2 separate regions of the Homo sapiens genome follow, and region 2 is linked to region 1. The links come from fine-mapping of genetic effects on gene expression. Tissue or cell type: whole blood. Region 1 holds a variant in brackets; the other region holds the start of a gene. All regions are shown on one strand. Distances are from middle to middle.

What was found. PIP is the estimated chance that this variant, and not a neighbour inherited with it, causes the effect.
Region 2: SPCS2 starts here. The variant in region 1 is fine-mapped to the expression of SPCS2 in whole blood (INTERVAL, PIP above 0.99).

The regions. Positions count from the first base shown.
Region 1 is chr11:74,725,418-74,730,566 of GRCh38, forward strand. All of the region lies in intron 1 of CHRDL2 (chordin like 2), which reads right to left. Among named protein-coding and RNA genes, the nearest start is that of CHRDL2, 3.4 kb to the right of the region's middle. The variant TTTG/T (reference allele first, on the strand shown) is at 3,111.
Region 2 is chr11:74,946,616-74,951,764 of GRCh38, forward strand. It overlaps SPCS2 (signal peptidase complex subunit 2), which reads left to right and starts at 2,651. Exons shown (of 5, transcript NM_014752.3): 1 at 2,651-2,784. The coding sequence starts at 2,671. It overlaps XRRA1 (X-ray radiation resistance associated 1), which reads right to left and starts at 2,476. Exons shown (of 19, transcript NM_001378157.1): 1 at 2,313-2,476. RefSeq lists enhancers at 1,844-2,698, 2,196-2,245, 2,366-2,425, 2,556-2,775, 2,699-3,553 and 1 more.

The DNA.
Region 1 (5,149 bases):
TGCCATCTGAATGCTCAAACCACTGGCCAAACCAAATGACAACATGTACAAAAAGGTCAGGAGCCCAGAGTAGCTAAGGGGATGAGTGATTCCATGATCTTCACGCATAAGTCAAAATTTCCAAACTGTCTCTATCCAAGTTCCAAGCTCATCCCACAGTCTGGCTTGAAACTCTCATGCTGTGATAAAAGGTTTTTTTATGGTGGTCAGTTAGAAGGGGTTAGTGCGGTTGAGAATTCTTCCCCAATAGGAAGCAGAAAAGACAACTAGAAAGAAGCTTCTGGGCTGGAGGGGAGGCTGGTCAAGACCTTGGAAAGGGCATCAGGAGGGGCCGGGGTGAGAGGAGAGAGGTCTGGAATTGTGGCTGGCCTGTCCCCAGGCTGCAAGAACTCAGGAAACCTGAGTGAGCCAGGCTGCCCAGGAATGTAGAACGTTTACATCTCTTCCCTCACACCCACACAGCCATACTTTCTCTATTTATTTATAATCCCCTCTTCACACAAACAAACTTGCTCCCCTCTGAGACATAAGCTCTGCTCTGGGCTCTGGCACCCGGTGGGAGAGGCCTCTTAAGGAAATCAGAAGAAAAGCCTCAGCTCCTCAGTGGCTGAGCTGTGCAACCCGGAGAAAGGAACTGCATTTCTCTGAACCTGACTTTTCCCTCTGGCACATGACAGACATACAGGAACATAGAAGGGCCTCTAGGGAGAGAACTATCAAACCAGGAAAGGCAGCTCTGTTACCTGTTAAAGGGCAGGAAACAGGGTGGGGACTGTTCACATTTTTTTCTGCCTTGGACATATATGCTTAGATTCATAGAATCGTAGAAAGCTAGGGACTCAGAGACATCCAGTCCCCTGTTTCCTTTGTGGGAAATTGAGTCCCAGAGAGAGATCAGGACTTGACTAAGCTTGATTCACTCCAGCACAATCTTCAATGCCAGTCGTCAGATGTGGAGAGAATGCTTACAGGGACACCCATCCCCTACTAGGCAGGACTAGAAGAAATGGCCTTAATTTGTAAACAGAAGGCTTCTGGCGAGACACAAAAAAGAACTCCTGAGTACAAGAATGAGGATGGGGTCCTGGACAGAGGAAGGGGGACGCCTGAAATGATCTCTGTACTACACCTCCCAGGGGCACCGCTGTCATGCCAGTCCTTTTCTTTGAGAATATGAAGGATTCAAGGTCCCTCTCCCAGAGTCCGGCGCCATGGTTGGCGGCTGGGGGAACTTGAGAGGCCAGTCCTGGAACAGGTGCAACAGCTGGAGCAACTGCGCAGCTGTTGCCGGGCTCAGGCTCAGCAGCCTGTGCGCCAGTGAGTGAGGCAGAGACCTCTGCTGGTGGGAGAGGAGAGGTGCAGAACGGCCCAGTCAGAGATCCAGAGAGAAGTCAGCCTGGAGCCGGACTTCAGGCCTTCACTTAGGTGCTCCCCACTGCCTCATGCACACCTGCACAGGTAGATGGGGATGCGACTAAGCTGGACAGACAAGCAGGTCCCCTCTGGCCGGTCTCCCACTACCTTCACTGCCCCAGGCCATCCAGGCACTTTTTTCTGGTGTCTGAGGGTCTGCCTGTCCACTCCTCCCTGGCAGGGCAGGAGTACCACCCTCCCACATCCCTATTCCAAAGGCCAGAGTGGACTCGGAATCAAGGCAACCACACCTTTGGGTTTTGGAGACTTAGAATTACGAAGTGTTAAAACTAGAATGGTCCTCAATAATCATCCACTTGAGTCCAACCATCTCACTTTACAGGGGAGAAAACTGAGAGGTAGAGAAAGGCAACCTGTCCAGGGTCACAGTTGGAATTGATGGCACAGCCAGGGCTGGATCCATGACTTTCTGATTCCAGGTTTGCCCTCCACATCACATCCTACCAGCGGAGCTCCCTTCCTGTCCCATGCCTGCGTCTAGGGTCCGGAATTCATCACCTGGGAACGAAAGCTTCGATTCCCATAATAAACAAAACCCTTGAAGAAAAAAAATACATGGATTGTTTTTTTCTCAGCAGGGTCTCACTGTGATACCCAGGTTGGAGTGCAGTGGTGCAATCACAGCTCACTGCAGCCCCCATCTTCTGGGCTCAAGCAATCCTTCCACCTCAGCCTGCCGAATAGCTGGGACCACAGATATGTGCCACCATGCCAGGCTAATTTCTTTATTTTTTCTAGAGACAGGGTCTTGCTATGTTTCTCAGGCTGGTCTCAAACTCCTGGGCTCAAGTAATCCATCCACCTCGGCCTTTCAAAGTGCTGAGATTACAGGCGTGAGCCACTGCACCCAGCCCCATGTTTTTACTTGGTAACTGACTCTCCTGAAAGCAGGATTGGATGGAGGGAGGGAAGAGAAAGCAGAGCATACTAGACACCTACAAGGGACAATTAGGGAAGAGAACCAAAGAGAGGAGCTGAGAGGAGTAGGGCAGAAAGCACTGAAGAGGGAGGTAAGAAGATAGTAGGCCTCTGGTGGACACTCATCCACAAAGAGCCGAGTGTCTAGAGTGACCAGCATCACACATGTCTGTGGCTCAGCCTGGGGCTGGGACCAGTACTGGTCAGTAACCAGGTCAGGGACCCAGCCTGGGTAAGGGGTCTTGTATAGGGGTGGAATTGGTGTTCAACCTGTGGCCAAGGTTGGAGGACTAGGGCTTGGCTTGTGGCTGGAATTGCAACTTAGTCTGTATTGGGATTAGGGCTCAATCTATGGCTGGAAATAGAACCAAAGAGAGAATACTTTTTGTTTGAATAGCCTGAGGAGCAAACTGTTACCTGTGTTCACAGGCCCTTGGCATTCTTCAGGGCTCCGACACCTCAGGAGCCTGATACCACACAGACTTGAACATTTCCATCCGTTAGCACTGTTTCTGAAAGCACCTAAGATATCACCAGATTTCTGACCCACAACAGGCTTGAGATCTCACTTAAACTAAGATGAGGACCTTTGTAAGAGACCTTCAAATAGCATCTTGGCAAATGACTATAGGATCCTTTCTAGATTCATAGGCTGTCAGCACCAAACAAAATGAGGCTCAGATAAAGAAGTGGTCTGTCCCAACTCACACAGCCAATAAGTGACAAATCAGGGTCCAGGACCCAGGTCTGTTCTGTTT[TTTG/T]TTGTTGTTGTTGTTGTTGTTTTTTAAGAGATGAGGTCTCACCATGTTCCCCAGGCTAGCCTTGAACTCCTGAGCTCAAGGGTTCCTCTCCCTCTCAGCCTCCCAAGTAGCTGGTGACTGGAACTACAGGTGTGTACCACTGTGCCTGGCTTTTGTTCTTTTCTTTAATAAATTTGCTGTGTGACCTTGGGCAAGTCACTCTTCTCTTCTGGGCTTCAATTTAACTCTAAGTATAGGTATATTGATGGGTAGAAGCAGATGGTTTTTGATAGTTTCACCAGCTCTAACATCCAGGAATCTTAACATTCTCCAATGAGTGCCAGTCCACCTCACCCTAATGAGTTGGCTCCAAGTCTTTTTCTCACATGTCTGGAGATCTGTATTTACAAGGCTGTAGGGAAGATGGAATACTGGCAGGACCTGCTGAGAGGTACAGAGCTGAAGGCCAGGGAGGCACAGACGAGGGAGATCAGAGTGGATCAAGTCACCGGGGAGAGTTTGCTTGAAGAGGTGTGACCTAGGCAAGGCCATGAAAGGCTGACAAGATATGGGAAGCAAAGAAGCAGGGTGTGGGTAGGATAACAGTCTGGTTCTAGGACATCTTTCCAAGATGCATCAAGGGCAATGATATCTGGAGAAAAAATTGCAGGGACTAAGAACAAGGTGTCAAGTGGATGGGAGGCAGGCATGGAGGGCATCCTGTGCAAAGTCTCTTTTAAGAAATAGGAGGCAGGTGTTAGGAGGAAACCCTCAGGGTTCAAGAAAGCGGAAGAGACATTTATTAAGTACACAGCATTGTGCTGGGCACTTTAATCCGTTACCTCCTTTAATCCTCCCAAGAACCCTGCAAGTTCTGGATTAGTATCTCTCTTAGACAGATTAGGAAATTGAGGCTCAGAGAAGTTATGACTTACAAAAAGTCACACAGCTCTAAGGGGCACGGCCAGGATTTGAATACAACACTGAGCTAATTCCATTACTTGTTCTATGTAATGGAAAGACTTATGTGAGTCTCATGCTGCTGGCAGGCCAGAGACACTCAGCCTGCTCTCATGAGCAGAAACAAGACCGTAACAAAGTCCAGCACTACCAGCTCCAGAATGTCACGTGCAAAAGAAAGGCATAGATGGAGGAGCTGAGCTGGGGAGAGGAAAGAGCACCAGACTAGGAGTTGGGAACGCAGGGTCTTAATCCCAGGCTGTGCCATGTATGTCCTGGAGAAACCCACTGCTTGAATGAAGCTCCTTTCTTCTGATTAAGAGAATGTGGTTTGGTTTTCCATCCTCACAGCATTCTAAGAGATTGGCTGGGCATGGGGAGGGGGGACCACCAGCCTATTGTGGGCGCAGTGAGGAAACTGAGGCTCAGATTGATGATGTAACCTGTTTGATGTTACACTGTATCTATGTGGAAAAGCATAATTGGGAACTGATTTTTTTTGGAAGCTATCAAGCACCAGTCTTGTGCTAGCTGCTTTACCTCTTTTCTCTAATTTAATCCTATCAACTCTCCTAGGATTTTTACTTCCGCTTTATAGATTAGGAAACCCAGGGTCAGAGAGGTGCACTCTGTGACGGCCTCCCAGCAGCTGGCATTCAGCGGGGCTGGGATGGTGAAGACGCTGGTCTATCTCACTGTGCCCTGCCGCCTCCCAGAGTCTCACACTGCAAATTCAGGGTTCCTTCTAGACAATGTGAGGCAGGGAATAAAGCATGGGATCTGGAACTAGAGTTCTGGCTTTGGATGGCTTACCCGCTCTGTAAGTTTTAGCAAGTTCCTCCTTGCTCAGCCTAAGTTTTCTCATCTGTAAAGTGCGAATGATAATACCCACCTCACTGGAGAGTTGCGAGGATCAAAAGAGAGAAAAGAATGGGAAGGTTATCCTAATTACCTCTCATTTCTGTCCAATGGCTCTTTCCAAAGGCAAAAAGCCTTTTCTTCTCCATCACACTCCTTACCTGTAGCCAGACATACCCGACTCCCTCCTAGGAACAGTAAGTCCTCCCCCAACCCAAAACACAGTGCCCTGCCCTCTC
Region 2 (5,149 bases), 220 kb after region 1:
GCAGTGTGAAAATGGACTAATACAGGCACTATACCACACTGTATTATAATGCCTGCTTCCTTGTTTGTTCCCCACCTCACTACAGGCTGTGAGTATCTCCAAGGTCAGGTCAGGCCTGGGTCCTACTTACCTCTTTTTCTTTTTTTTTTTTTTTGAGACGGAGTCTTGCTCTGTCACCCAGGCTGGAGTGCAGTGTCGCTATCTCAGCTCACTGCAAGCTCCGCCTCCCGGGCTCACGCCATTCTCCTGCCTCAGCCTCCCTAGAAGCTGGGACTACAGGCGCCCGCCACCATGCCTGGGTAATTTTTTGTATTTTTAGTAGAGACGGGGTTTCAACATGTTAGCCATGATGGTCTTGATCTCCTGACCTCGTGATCCGCCCGCCTCGGCCTCCCAAAGTGCTGGGATTACAGGCGTGAGCCTGTACTTATCTCTTTATCCTGCATCTCACACAGGACCTGGCCTACTGAAGGAAGAGTCTCAATGATTGTTAATTGAACTAACCCAACCCATGAACAAAATGCCACAGGAGCACTTCATGCAGTGGGTGAAGAAAGAAGAAGCAAGTATCAGAAATAGTTTCACAGGGTAGGTGACATTAAAGCTGGATCTTGAAAGATGAGAAGTTGGCCTGGTGTGGTGGTTCATGCCTGTAATCCCAGCACTTTGGGAGGCCGAAGCAGACGGATCACTTGAGGTCATGAGTTCAAGACTAGGCTGTCCAACACGGCGAAATCCTGTCTCTACTAAAAATATAAAAATTAGCCAGGTGTGGTGGCATGTGCCTGTAGTCCCAGCTACAAAGACTACAGCTTGGGAGGCTGAGGCACAAGAACTGCTTGAACCCAGGAGGCAGAGGTTGCAGTGAGCCAAGATCCCACCACTGCACTCCAGCCTGGGTGACAGAGTGAGACTCTGTCTCAAAAAATAAAAAATAAAATAAAAAGTGACTAGGGCAATGCTGTATCATCTCACTTTATTTTAAATAAAAGAAAAATGAGAAGTTGTAAAAGATAAACTGCAACAACAAGCTACAGGGGATCTGACTAGTGTCCACGGATTGCTTCACAGAGGTAATGAAATATCATCTGATGTTATTGCTATTTAGTGATATTTATTTTCTTTTTAGTAATAATTTAGTTATTTAGTGATAATTATTTTCTTTTCTTTCTGATCTCGGCTCACTGCAACCTCCGCCTCCCCGGTTCAAGCAATTCTCCTGCCTCAGCCTCCCAAGTAGCTGGGATTACAGGTGCCCGCTACCACGCCCGGCTCATTTTTGTATTTTTAGTAGAGACGGGGTTTCACCATGTTGGCCAGGCTGGTCTTTAACTCCTGACCTCAGGTGATCCGCCTGCCTTGGCGGGGATTACAACCATGAGCCCCCACGCCCGGCCGAGATAATTATTTTCACATGAATTTTGGCTTCCCCAAGACAAGTTTTTGTCTGTTTTATTCAGGGATATATCCCTGGTGACTAGAATAGTGCCTGTTACATAGTAAGAAACTCAAAAATATTTGTTTAATTCTTTAGACGCTTATGGGGGATATATAGGAATTAAAAAACAATACAACGTAATAGAGCATGGTATAATACAATACTGCTATTTGATAACTCTGTCATGGAGTAGTAGTTCCACCAGAGTAGCAACCAGGTCTATCTTGATCCCCTGTATCCGTTAGTACAATATTGGTGCTCAATATACATTTGTGAAAAAAATTAATTAAAATACAACGTAATAGAGCATGGTATAATACAATACTGCTATTTGATAACTCTGTCATGGAGTAGTAGTCCACCAGAGTAGCAACCAGGTCTATCTTGATCCCCTGTATCCGTTAGTACAATATTGGTGCTCAATATACATTTGTGAAAAAAATAATTAAAATCTAGAATACTATTACATCCTAAAACCGTAAAAGCAGAGTGTCAGAAGGGATATATATTGGTTTTGATTTTTTTTAAATGCCGGCTTGAAAACCGAGTTCAGATACATGCTATCTGGCTTTGGGTAGGTTCTTTAGTTTCCTCCTCATCTAACAGGGCTGTTGTGGGACTCAGTGAGAGAGAGGATGGCTGGAAGTGCACATAGGATACTGCCTGGCAGACTGTAGGCACTCAGTAAACGCGAGTTCTCCGTTAACACGAAAACATTACAAACAGCTAAAATGACAGCTGCTTGAGAGAATAATCGGTAAGTGCCACAACCGGGCTAGAAAAGGATGAAGGACAAGCTCCTGCCCACTCCTTTGGAAACTCCACACCTGGGCCGGAGAAAGACTCGAATTCGAAAACTAAGTTTCAGTCGCACCTGCCTCCGGCGTCGCTTCAGCCTCCGAGGGGTCTGCGGAGGCGACGTCCCAGTCAGGAGGGATGCGCGCCTGCGAGCCCCCCGGGGATCTCGGAGCCGCTCCACTGCGGTGCCTGCCGCTATCTTCCCCACGCCTTAGTAACTGCGACGCGACGGCAGACAGTGTAGGCGGCAACCGACGGCCGGGACGTCTAACCTCAAGTCCCAGCAAGCCCCGCGGCCACGTCCTCTGACTACCTCGCGCCAGCAAGACCCAAACTACGGATCCCGATTGACTCCGCGCGGCGCGTCACGCTGTCAGCTCCAGCCAATCGGCTTCAGACAAGTCGGAGGGGAGGGAGACGCAGAGGCGGACAAGATGGCGGCGGCAGCTGTACAGGGCGGGAGAAGCGGTGGTAGCGGAGGCTGTAGTGGGGCTGGTGGTGCTTCCAACTGCGGGACAGGAAGTGGCCGTAGCGGCTTGTTGGATAAGGTGAGGAGCCGGTTCTTGGGAACAGTTGAATCCTGGGGAGGCCTGGGAGGCGGCGAGCCAACCTTCCCATCCCGGTCTCCCTTATTTTCTACGGCCTTTTGAGGGGAGCCCTTGTGTGACCACTATCACAACCCTACGCACGCTTGGAGCCTGCCCTTGCCCTCATCACACTTCAAACCTGGACCCGGTCCTCTTTAGAACTTCTTCTTTTCTCGCAAGTGTTCTGGTCCTGGTCGCCACACCTTTTTCGGTAATTTGATTTTTCCTATATTTAATCGTGTCCATCTCTTTTCTCCTGGGGGGCTGGGTGCACTGTTGTCAGTGCCCATTTCACAGACACGGAAAACCGAAGCCCAAAGATTAAAGAATCAGTATCCCCCAAACTCTCTACCACCATCACCCTTGCGTGCTGCTACAGATTCCAAAGTGCTTCTTGTCCTTTTGCTTACTGAAGTTTTTAGGCGTTTTATCATGATAGGCGAATACTGAAAATATTTGAGTATTGACTGTTCTACTGGGCTGACAAGAAGCCTTTAAGATTTTTCTTTTTTTCCTGTTGTTTTTCCCCGCCCTCTCCTCTCTTCCCTCCACCTCCCTCTTTGCTACCAAGTGCACTGCTGCCCGCTCACGCTTGCCCCTTTCCTCCCTCTGCTCATCCAAAAAAATTTTTTTTAACTGCAGTCCTAGCAACAAGGGTTTAAAAGAAAAGAAAAAAAGGAAAACTGTCCCTGGGTTGGCCTTTCTTGCTCTTTGCACAGCATCTTGGAAGAAACAGTTGCACGGAGAACAACGTCCTGGTGTTGATTTTGCCTCTAATTAGCTTTGTGACCTTGAAATATGCTTGCTCTCTCTATATCTGTTTTCTCATCTGCAAAGTGAGAGATTTAGCCTTAAAATGAGGGACTTAACTCTAAATTCCCTTCCAGTTCTCTCATTGTAGGGCCCTGGGCTGGTTTGATGAGAATTGTTAAGCATGGTGTCTTTAATATAGTAAGCAGAATTTTTGAATATAATTGAAAACAGCTTTCAGACTTCCCTGTGCATAACACATGGTAGGTGCTTAAGAAATGAAAACATGATTATGTTGAGGGGTTAAGATCCAGGTCTTTTTACTTGTCTTTTTGAGTGTCATTGGTTTTGAAAGACATGGTTCTCACACTCTTCTCTTGTGAGAGGGGTCACGCTCCATTGCCCAGAATGGATCTTAGCTCACTGCGGCCTTGAACTCTTAAGCTTAGGTGATCTTCCCACCCCAGCTTCCTGAGTAGCTGGGACTGCAAATGTGCACCACTATGCCTGACTAATTTTTTTGCTTTTAACTTTTCTGTAGAGTCAGGGTCTTACTGTGTTGCCCTGGCTGGTCTCAAATTCCTGGGCCTCAAGAGATCCTCCCACCTTGGCTCCCCAAAGTGCTGGGATTACAGGCATAAGTCACCATGCACCTGGCCTCACACTCAAACCTTAAGATACAGAAACATATTCTGGAGGTTGGGATGGTAAATTGCTTCAAGACATGTGAGAGTATGGGGAATTGATGGTCATTTGTGTACACAAATCCTTCCCTCTTGCTAGGTAAGCACCTCATAGCCTGTGCTTACCTGCCCCACTAACTGCTCTTGCTCTTCCTTGCACTTGGATCATCATCAGCAAACATTAAGTATGGGCATTCTGCTAAGGCAGTATAGAATACTATTATTATGGAATAGTGTATATGGCACCATTGTGTTATTGAAAGAACCCGGATGTGGGGATCATAAGATTTCAGCTTTGAAGTATTTCTGCTACTTGCTAACAGTATGAAGATTGGCAAGTCACTTAACCTTTCTTCATTTGGAATTTTGGAATCTCTGGCACCTAGATCACAGGGTTTTGGGAAGAACCAAGTAAGACAGTACACATTAATGATCTCCATTACCTGTAGTGTCCAGTACAGATGTGTGATGGTGGAGGAGTAAATCAAGAATCCTACTGTCAGAGAGCACTCAGAATAGCCAAATATAGGAGATGGGGTAATTGAATCTATTTAAGGAAGTATATGGTATATTCGCTCAAGTGTGTACTTGTTACGGAAGTTCAAATGAGAGAAATAGAGTGAACCCTGCGAGCTTATTGATAAGAGTAAGAGCCTCGGCCGGGCGCAGTGGCTCACACCTGTAAACCCAGCACTTTGAGAGGCCAAGGCAGGCGGATCACCTGAGGTCGGAAGTTCAAGACCAGCCAGACCAAGATGGAGAAACCCCATCTCTACTAAAAATACAAAATTAGCGAAGTGTGGTGGTGCATGCCTGTAATCCCACCTACTCGGGAGGCTGAGGCAGGAGAATCGCTTGAACCCGGGAGGTGGAGGTTGCAGTGAGCCGAGATC